Homo sapiens: one gene and its partners. The gene in region 2 interacts genetically with the main gene of each other region. Each region holds a gene or a part of one and is shown on either strand. Other genes may lie near its edges. The genes, in order: CTNNB1, CREBBP and MYB.

Region 1 (3,653 bases), on a different chromosome or scaffold from region 2:
CTGGCCTCTGATAAAGGTAAATTGTCAAAGTAGAATTTACCTTTGTTGCAGAATTGAAAATGAAGCATCTCTAGCTGTTGGATGGCTGTCTAAGCATAGTGATCAATAAGTAGGAATTGTATTCCTTAGTAAGTAGGAAGTATGGCTGCGATAGGGGTAAGATTCTGAAATGTTTGTGTAGTCAGAACTACTTTTAGTTGATACCAATAGATTTAGTGTGGTGGGAATTTTAGGGTAAGAAAATGATTTTGTTGAGTTGTATGCCAGTTCTTCCTTCTGTTTTTCAGGCTACTGTTGGATTGATTCGAAATCTTGCCCTTTGTCCCGCAAATCATGCACCTTTGCGTGAGCAGGGTGCCATTCCACGACTAGTTCAGTTGCTTGTTCGTGCACATCAGGATACCCAGCGCCGTACGTCCATGGGTGGGACACAGCAGCAATTTGTGGTAGGTAAATTCTTACAGTGATACCTGGCTATCTAAAAGGAATGCATAAATCCAAAGGATCCTGAACTTCTTTCTTTGGTCATTGGTTCCCCCCATCCGTCTTCCTGAAGAGCTAATGACAAAGTAAATAAATAAATAATTACACATTTCTATGGCTGCAGAGAAAATAAGGCATAGTGTGGCCCCAGTGATATTTCCTTGGACACGTCCTTCACATGGTCAGTCTTACAAAGGTTGGGTTAGGTGTTTCATAAAGTGTTCTCATTTAATTTACACAAAGGCCCACTTCCTTAGGAAGAGGTAGAGTCATAATTTGAGATCAAATCTGTGTAATTTCAGAGCCTCTTACCCTTGCCTCATCATGCATTTTGACTATAAATATTTAGCAGTCCGTTTTATTATCTTTTCTGTGAGTTAAACTTTTTTCATGGACCTAAGAATATTCAGAAATAAGTAGTAGCATTTCTGTACTCTTAACCACAAAAATCTCAACCTGAAGCTTTGATACAAAGTTTGTGTCTTAAAAGTAGCTTCATTAAAAGTATAGTCTAATGACATTTCTGATTTCTCAGACTTTAAGACCTTATTAGGTTAGTTTAGAAAACAAAGATGGAGCCTACCAGAACAGATGTTAGGAATCTCATTTTGCTGGTTGCTTTGTGTATGTACTCATATTGGGGCTTTGGCTTTCTTCATTTATTACTGTTGGTATTGGCCCATCTCCATGAGGTGACTTAATAGAACGTTGAGGGCACCTTTTATTTTAAATCTCTTTTCTAGGAAGAAGAGAGTTTTTGTGTCCTTGTAAGAATCAAGTTATTTATAAAAGCTGCTAAATGTAGCAGAATAATAACCCCTTTTAAAACTCAAATCCAGAAACAGGAGAAACAGATGGTACTTACATATTGCAAAAGCTATCTTCCTTCTATACATGAGGCTGTCAGCTGAATAGTCTTGGAAGAGTGAGGAGTGAATTTTTCTGCTGGCAACTCGGTTAGTTTTAGCAGTTGGTGCTAAAACTTGGCAAAGTTTTCACCAAATACATGGAAGATATACAAAAATAGAGGGGGCATGTAAAAGAAAAACGTTGACATAGTCTGAGCATTACTTTCTCATCTTCTCTTTTTATATACCTTTTACCCAGAATGATTGGTGCCCTTACTGTAGGAAAGTTGTCTTTGGGATTCAGCGCTGTATGGAAGCTCTGTTGCACTGTGTATGGGGGAGGGGTGCTGCTTTGAATTAGTGCTGCCAGGAGGCCTCTTTTCAGTGACATTCAAGTTAATGGAATCCTTCTTCCTTCCTGAACTAATTGCAAGTTACGGGGAACTTCGGGTATATAATGTAAATAATTACAGTCTAATAATTGTTCCTCAAACTTTACAGAGGAGAATGCCCTGTTTGTTAACCATGTTTCTTTTGGCAGGAGGGGGTCCGCATGGAAGAAATAGTTGAAGGTTGTACCGGAGCCCTTCACATCCTAGCTCGGGATGTTCACAACCGAATTGTTATCAGAGGACTAAATACCATTCCATTGTTTGTGCAGGTATGTTTTAAGTGAAGTGTTCTAGGTTTTATGTCCATAAAATTTCCAGATTGTAATGACTAATAACATTTCAGAAAATTAGGGACCATAATAGGGTTACCAACATTTAATTTTATGAAAATTCCCTACATTTTTTGGTCAGTAAGAGAAACATTGAGACTTGAGAAGAGGGAGGAGATTTCACATTTCACTTTTATGGGTGCCTAGAGGGGAGAGCTGACCTGGGCTGCCAGAGGCAGGGCATAGACCCCCAACCAATTCTGGGTTTTCCAAATCTTAGATCAGTTAGAGCTGCCTCTGAAGAAAGGGTTTATAGCTAAAAAATATTATGGAAATCCAGTGCTCCAGAGCATTAAACACCCCAAGACATAAAATTCAGAGAATATTATTTACTACAGTGTGAATGCCTCTTGCACTCTGAATTGGGAATGTTTGCACCACAGTGGGGGGCTTGCCATGTTTTAGCTTTAGATTTAATTAGGTTTTGTTTGTGTTTTCTCCTTAGCTGCTTTATTCTCCCATTGAAAACATCCAAAGAGTAGCTGCAGGGGTCCTCTGTGAACTTGCTCAGGACAAGGAAGCTGCAGAAGCTATTGAAGCTGAGGGAGCCACAGCTCCTCTGACAGAGTTACTTCACTCTAGGAATGAAGGTGTGGGTAAGTAAAAAGGAACCAAAGCCTTTAGCAGATGTGTACATTGAAGTCTCAGTTTTTCCTCAAGGGCCTTTTTCTCCTTGTCTCTTAGCGACATATGCAGCTGCTGTTTTGTTCCGAATGTCTGAGGACAAGCCACAAGATTACAAGAAACGGCTTTCAGTTGAGCTGACCAGCTCTCTCTTCAGAACAGAGCCAATGGCTTGGAATGAGGTAGGGAAATGTGAGCAGTTATTTATCTGGTAGTTTCCTAGAGCAGGTATGGCAGCTTGTTCTTTCCTCTCAAAACACTTAGTACACATTCATTTGCATTGATGTTTCCCTGGCTTGAGTATTTCTTCTTTATGCTGTCTAGCAACTGCTCTGAGGAAGAACTATAATACAAGCTTTAAAGAGTCTGTTCAGAATCATTACAAATAAGTTGTGTTATTTAAAATTATAATTCATAAGGGAGAAAGATGAAAAATGTTACCAGATTAAAGAAGATTTTTCAAAAGGATGTAAGGAAAGAGGCAGTGTTAAACACTGTTAAGAGGACAGTTTATCAGTATTTTTTACTAAACTTTAATAAAACTTTTCTATTTGAATTTCTGCTATGAATTTTTCTTCAGCATTTGTCCTCAGTACAGGTGGTTCCTTGAAACATTGTTTCTAATAAAACTAGAACATCCTGATATTTTATCCATTCTATAGAGATCATTGATGGTACACAGACATACAGTGGATTATGTTTGTTGAGTGAATGGAAAGAGAGATTGTTAGGTTTACAACGATGCAGCTCTTGAGACCGGAGTTTAAGATCAGCCTGGGCAACATAGTGAAACCCCATCTTTAGCTGGGCATGGAGATGGATGCCTATAGTCCTAGCTACTGGGGAGACGGGGGCAGGAGGATTGCTTGAACCCAGGAGTTAACAGACTGCACTCAGTGACAGAGCCAGACTCCAACACAAAAAAAAAAAAAAAAAAAAAGCAAATTACCAGTGAGTAGTGTGTTACTTGGGTTTTT
Region 2 (3,653 bases):
TCAGTGTCCTCTGCTTGGGTCTCCGTCTTCATTTCCAGCACAGGTACGTCAGGTCCTGGCTGCTGGGAATTGGTTTCTGCGCTGGCCACCGAGGAGGGGGTAGGGACTCTGTTATCAATGCTGGCTGCTGCCTGGGAAAGCTGTGAAAAAACCGAAAGCACTGACTTCAGTAAGCAAGGTAACATAAATGATCTTCAACTATGCTGCTCATGCAACCTACAATTTCCCATTAACATTTCTCAATACTGATCCAGCAGGTGCCCTTCTGTGAAACCGAAGAACAGGGGTTAAAGTAGGAATGAGTTCTAGAGGGAGGTAACAGCAGCCAGAGGTACAACTCAGGTCTTGCCACAAAGGCAGAGGAAACAGCAGAGCTTTTCAAACTTTGACATAAATTTATTTTCTCGAAGTTTTCTAGCTAAATCATGAAATCTCATATTTTGAAATTAATTCCCTTCAATATGGTGGTTAATGTGTATGGTAAAAGGCTGAATTATGAATGCCTAAGCACATCTGAAGGGAGGGAAATCAAGTGCCTACCCAAAGACAGTGTTACCCAGCCTGTGTGAACGGTAGGAACACGGGTGCTGGTGGAGTAAATGAACATTACACGAAGGAACCACTAAAAGAATTCCTAATTTGCAAATTCTTACTCAATGGAATTTTTTTTTTTTTGAGACGGAGTCTCACTCTGTCACCTAGGCTGGAGTACAATGGCGCAATCTCGGCTCGATACAATTTCTGCCTCCCAGGCTCAAGCGATTCTCCCGCCTCAGCCTCCCGAGTAGCTGGGAATACAGGCACCAGCCATCATGCCCGGCTAATTTTTATATTTTTGTAGAGACAAGGTTTCACAACTTTGGCCAGGCTGGTCTCGAACTCCTGAGCTCCGGTGATCCGCCTGCCTCAGCCTCCCAAAGTAGTGGGATTACAGGCGTGAACCACCGCGCCCAGCCTCAATGGAGTTTTAAGTAAACAAACAAAAGATGACAATGTCTCGCTCTGTTGCCCAGGCTGGAGTACAGTGGCGTGATCTTGGCTCACTGTAACCTGTACCTCCTAGGCTCAAGTGATCTTCCCACCTAAGCCTTCTGAGTGGCTGGGACTACAGGACTACAGGCACACACCACCATGCTTGTCTGGTTAAAAAAAATTTTTTTTTGCTGGAGACGAGGTCTCACTATGTTGCCCAGGATGGTCTTGAACTCATGGGCTCAAGTGATTCTCCCACCTTGGCCTCCCAAGGTGCTGAAATTATAGGTGTGAACCACCGCGCCTGGCCTGACACACAATTTTTATGGGAAAATTATCTTCTAAGAGTCTTGGCCCAAAAACAGCAGAGACAGAGAGGCTTACCGGTGTGCCAGGAGGCTGGGCGTGCACAGGCGTCGGCTGTTGCTGCGATGACTGAGGGGTAGCCACAGACGGGGGCTGAACTGGGGTTTGAGGCTGCGGGGTCACCTGGGCCTGGGCTGCTGCCTGGACTGTAGGGGTGCTCTGGGTTTGGGTAGCACTGGGCACTGAGCCAGGAGTCGGGGTGGGAGTCTGCCCGGAAGACGACACAGGAGTTGATGGCTGAGTGGGAGCTGCTGGCTGGGGAGGAGTCATCCCAGGTGGTGTCGTGTGCTGGAGAGATGGCATGCCAGCAGCCGTGGAAGCAGGAGGCGGTGTTGGGTGCAGTGGTGACTGTGTCACTGGAGGGCAAGGTAGCTGGCTGGCCTGAGGCCCCAGCATGTTGAGAGGGTTAGGAAGAGCAGCACCAGGCACCTGTCCCTACCAGAAATGGACAGAGTATGGTAAAATTATTTCCCCCGTTTGAAAATGTGATGAAACATTTGAAAAATTAAATGTATGAAAAAAAAATTTTTTTTTTTGAGACAGTTTCACTCTTGTCGCCCAGGCTGCAATGCAATGGTGCGATCTCGGCTCACTGCAGCCTCCGCCTCCTGGGTTCAAGCAATTCTCCTGTCTCAGCTTCTCGAGTAGCAGGGATTACAGGTGCCCGTCACCACGCCCAGCTAATTTTTCTGTTTTTAGTAGAGATCGGGTTTTGCCATGTTGTCCAGGCTGGTCTCAAACTCCTGACCTCAAGTGATCCTCCCGCCTCGGCCTTCCAAAGTGCTGGGATTACAGGCGTGAGCCACCGCGCCCAGCCAAATGTATGGGAATTTAATCACATTTTCTTGGGAGTGTTCTGCTTGTGAAAATTCATCGAGCTATACACTTGTAATGGGCACTCCTCAATAACGGTAAAACTACACACGTTTCTTATAGTCTGATTTATATAATTAAAACAACCATTGAAACTTATGGCTTAAACACACACATCTACAGCAGTCCCCTCATATCCACTCGGATACATTCCAAGACCCCCAGTCTTGGAACGCCTGAAACTGCGGATAGTACTGAACCCAATATTTACCAAGATTTTTGGATCTGACAACCAAGGTGGACACTCAGTGACTAAGAGGTGGGTAGTGTCTACAGTGTGGAAATGCTGGACAAATAAATGATTCACATCCCTGGGGGCACAGAGTGGGATGGTGACAGAATTCATCATGCAACTTGGAATGGCACTCAATTTAAAACTTTTTTTTTTTTTTTTTAAAAAAAAAAAGACAGAGTCTCGCTCTGTCACCCAGTCTGGAGTGCAATGGCATGATCTTGGCTCACTGCAACCTCCATCTCCCGGGTTCCAGTGATTCTCCTGCCTCAGCCTCCTCAGTAGCTGGGATTACAGGCGTGCAATACCATGCCTAGCTAATTAATTTAAAATTTATGAATTGTTTATTCCCAGAATTTCCCATTTAATATTTTTGGACCACAGTTGACCCCAGGTAACTGAAACCTCAGAAAGTGAAATGACAGATTGGGGGAGCTACTGTACATTGACCCAGCCTATAAGCTTCATGTTCTATAACATGTACCCAATGTTCTTTAACATTTTCTAAGCTTAGCTTAGAAAAAGGTATTTTTTTTTTAAGTTGCTTCTTCCCTGGGGACTATAAAATAAATAAATAAAAATAAGAATAAAAGTTATTGACCATAAATATATACATCCATAAGTACCCTTAACAATTAAAAATTTAAAAAAAAAATTCTCTCTGAAACACAAACACACACACACACACACACACACACACACACACACACGTTAGTTACTGAAAGAGAACTGTTTCAGTGCAGTGGTTCTATACTGGGGATACACTTCAGAATTATTTGTGAACATTTTAAAAATGATTCTGAATCACTGTTCTAGAGCAGGGGTTGGCAATCTCCCAGGGCAAACACACTGAGCTGCTTGTTTCTGTAAATAAAGCTTTATTGGCACACAGCCACCTCATTTATGTACCACAGCAGCTTCTGCACTACAAGAACAGAAGTGATGAAAACCAAGATTGAATGGCCTGCAAAGCTGAAAATATTTAGTATCTGGCCCTTTACACGAAGTTTGCTAATCCTTGTTCTAGAGAAATGAAATGTTATGGAAAGTTAAGAATAATCATTTAGTGAGGAAATCTAATATATAATAATGACTTATGCAGCATTATTTCACATTAAAAACTCAAAACAAGGCTGGGTACGGTAGCTTACTCCTGTAATCCCAGCACTTTGGGAGGCCGAGGTGGGTGGATCACCTGAGGTCAGGAGAT
Region 3 (3,653 bases), on a different chromosome or scaffold from region 2:
ATATATGCAAAACTTAATCTAACTTAATTAAAACACGAATAGCAGTAGTTGAATTCTGTTCTCTAGAAACCAAGAGCCAAGTAACTTAGGTGGGAATAATTAAAAAAAAAAAAAAAAGCAAAAGCTTTTCTTCTGGACCTAAGAACAGCTTTCAGGAAAATTTTGAAATGGCTGCCCTTTGCCTTGAAATCTTTGTAACTCCCTTTCTGGGTTCCTCTTATGTCTGGGTGGAGTTCATTCTCTTCCTCATCTCCCAATTATTTGTGATATTCTTTTTTTTGAGATGGAGTCTCATTCTGTCACCCAGGCTGGAGTGCAGTGTCATGATCTCGGCTCACTGCAGCCTCTGCCTCCTGGGTTCAAGCGATCCTCCTGTCTCAGCCTCCCGAGTAGCTGGGATTAGTAGAGATGGGGTTTCACCGTGTTGGCCAGGCTGGTCTCAAACTCCTGACCTCAAGTTATCCACCCGCCTTGGCCTCCCAAAGTGCTGGGATTACAGGCATGAGCCACTGCGTCTGGCCTCTTTGTGGTATTCTGAGTCTTCTCCACACGGGGCCAACTCCAGCCTCACTGACGCAGGAACTTGTCCAGATTCCCCATAAATACTGACTCCCTGTCTCACATTCCAGTCCACAGCCATTTTACCAAAACAATTGCTGTCAGAGAGAGGCCAGGAAGGAAGCAATCTGATTTAATTAAACAAAATGTGCTTGCAATCCTTATTTTACAATAATACTACGCACTGGCTAGGTGCGGTAGCTCACACCTGTAATCCCAGCACTGTAGGAGGCCGAGGTGGGCAGATCACTTGAAACCAGGAATTCGAGACCTGCCTGGCCAACATGGCAAAACCTTGTCTCTATCCAAAAATACAAAAAAACGGCTGGGTTGCCGGTGGCTCACACCTGTAATTCCAGCTAATTGGGAGGCTGAGGCATAAGAATCACTTGAATCTGGGAGGCGGAGGTTGCAGTGAGCCGAGATCACCCCACTACACTCCAGCCTGGGCCACCGGGTAAGACCCTGTTTCAAAAAACAAAGCAACATCAACAAAAAACCCTGAAAAACTAAGCATCACAAATACTTACCGGGCAAGTTTTCAGATTCTCACAATTTGGAAGGAGAAACTATCACAAGAATGGGAAATCCCTTTAAGGTAATGGGCAGACTCAAAGGCTGCTGTCCTATGATCGTGCCATTTAACTTACAGCAAGAAATATGACCTTCAGCTTCTGAATCCAGGCTCTTCACTTCCTCTAGGGTTATGAAGTTTCCCTCTGCATGGCACAGGGGGATGGAGGAGAGGGCTCTGCAGGTGGCTGGGTATTGGGCTATTTAATGTCAGAAACTGCTTTAAATAATTTAGGGAAGCAAAATTTGCATTCTTATTTACATTTGGCTCAGGATTAATTTGGAATTGGTTATATTTCATCAACACACACCCACTTTAGGGTTACAAGGGAAATCTCTTTTGATATTAAAACCTGACAGCAGATGGTCAACTTCAGATCGGCCTCACAACATTGACAGTTGACTTTCTTATTCTGACAGTCAAATACATTGCAATTATTTTCTGTCTGACTAATTTCAGACTTCATTTAAAATTGGAACAGTCTCTGAGCTTTGGTTGCCTAGGGATACAGCATAAAAAATAAAAAATTTGGAACATAAAGTAAACTATATTGATATATTTTTATAAAACATTTGAGGGCAGAAGAAGATAGTGACACACGTGTAATACATCTTAGTCTCAGTCACAGTAAGAAATGTTTCATTTCATCATGCTTTGGGGAATCTGCACTGATAAAAATTTCTAGCATGTCTCATATGAGTAGCAAAAAGGAATTATTGGATTTTTCTAGACATCAAGAATTGTATAAAAGCATTACTCCCCTATGTCTAAAATGTTGAAAACGAAAAACAGACCACCAGCACTACCATCACCACCACCACCACCACCACCAAAGATGACAGTTTTTCAGTGAATGAATTTTAAAATACCAATGTTGGAATAGTAATTACCTGCAAGGGGCTCGCCAGGGACCTGTTTTTAGGTACTGTAAATGCTTTGAGAACATTGTCTTCATCTTCTGATGCTGGTGCCATTAAAACGGAGCTTGTAAGAATATTCTAAAGGGAAGAGAATAATTTGAAATTTAAATGAGGTTGGATAATATGAGAGCCACATTTTTCTAACACTGTGGAGAGTAGATTACTATGAGATGATACACATTAGCATAAAAAAATGCAGTCATCTGCCAGAAATTCTCCCCACTATGAGCTAAAAGGAGAAATCAACTATGTCTGAACCTTAATCCCATTGTGGCAAACATCACCACAACACAAAGCTCCTTTGGGATCCCAGAGTTCTAGGCATGTGTTAGGCACTCAAAAAACATCTGCTAAATGAATTAATAAATACATGCCTTTCAAAATAGAAGATTTACTAAGTTCTGGGGAGAGAACACTTTATTTCATATATTGGTACAGAACTATCAATATTTTAGAGCTATAAATTATTGGCAAAAAATGGTGAAAAGTAGGGAATTTAGAACAAGACCTTCTGAGTTCCAACCCAGCACCATCCCTTATTAGGTATACAATCTTGAGCAAATGACTAAGCCTCTTTGTGCCTCTGTTTTCCAGTTGACATAATAGAAATGATAATAATACCCACCTGGCCGGGCGCGGTGGCTCACGCCTGTAATCCTAGCACTTTGGGAGGCCGAGGCGGGTAGATCACCTGAGGTCAGGAGTTCAAGACCAGCCTGACCAACATGGAGAAACCCCGTCTCTACTAAAAATTCAAAATTAGCTGGGCGTGGTGGCGGGTGCCTGTAATCCCAGCTTCTCGGGAGACTGAGGCAGGAGAATCGCTTGAACCCGGGAGGCAGAGGTTGCAGTGAGCCGAAATCGTGCCATTGCACTCCAGTCTGGGCAACAAGAGCGAAACTCCGTCTCAAAAAAAATAAAAATTAATAAAAATAATACCAACCTTACAGGATAATTGTGAGAATTAACTGAATCAATTCATCGAAAGCCCCTAGAGCAGTACTTACCACTTAGTACCTACTAAATAAATCTTAGCAGCTGTTATTAGCTCTGATTTTCCTTAAGACATAAGGACAACCCTTCACAAATTATAAACTTTAAAAATGGTGGTAGTAACCCAAAGCAATTGGGTACAATACTGGGCATCTACTATAGACAACGTGGTTGATACCATATGAGATGCTACACAAACCAAACAAGAGACAACTTAACAAGAAGACAATATTATTTAGAAGACAAATAAAGGAAAATATATAAATGAACATAGTTTTTATATCCATGTAGATTTTTTTAAATGGCCAAGGCACTCAAATAATGAGAAAACAAATAATGAAAAAGTCTGCAATGTTTCTAATACATGAAAAAATCTCAACTTTATACTCTACATTAATAATCATTTTTTAAAAATCATGTGCAGGAGAACATTTAGAAATAAGATGTGTTAAAGAGGGAGTGCTGAAACCGCAGCAGCCCTATGCCACACACAGGATTTCATGAGGCACCAGTGTCACATAACAACTTGGGGGCTGGTGCACACGTACTTACCGGTGCATCTGCCACAGGCGAGGTCTGCGTGAACAGTTGGGTATTCAGACTGTCCC

Evidence for each region.
Region 1: of CREBBP (region 2) and CTNNB1, changing one enhances a phenotype caused by changing the other (phenotypic enhancement), as found in Homo sapiens cells (one study listed by BioGRID).
Region 3: of CREBBP (region 2) and MYB, changing one enhances a phenotype caused by changing the other (phenotypic enhancement), as found in Homo sapiens cells (one study listed by BioGRID).

What each region holds. Positions count from the first base shown.
Region 1 is NC_000003.12:41,233,852-41,237,504, forward strand, and holds part of CTNNB1 (catenin beta-1), read left to right. Parts: coding exon 1-16; intron 17-287; coding exon 288-446; intron 447-1,872; coding exon 1,873-1,992; intron 1,993-2,497; coding exon 2,498-2,648; intron 2,649-2,736; coding exon 2,737-2,858; intron 2,859-3,653. UniProt on the Homo sapiens protein: Key downstream component of the canonical Wnt signaling pathway.
Region 2 is NC_000016.10:3,769,214-3,772,866, forward strand, and holds part of CREBBP (CREB-binding protein), read right to left. Parts: intron 1,774-3,653; coding exon 1,357-1,773; intron 141-1,356; coding exon 1-140. UniProt on the Homo sapiens protein: Acetylates histones, giving a specific tag for transcriptional activation. Mediates acetylation of histone H3 at 'Lys-18' and 'Lys-27' (H3K18ac and H3K27ac, respectively).
Region 3 is NC_000006.12:135,201,694-135,205,346, reverse strand, and holds part of MYB (transcriptional activator Myb), read right to left. Parts: coding exon 3,598-3,653; intron 2,131-3,597; coding exon 2,023-2,130; intron 1-2,022. UniProt on the Homo sapiens protein: Transcriptional activator; DNA-binding protein that specifically recognize the sequence 5'-YAAC[GT]G-3'. Plays an important role in the control of proliferation and differentiation of hematopoietic progenitor cells.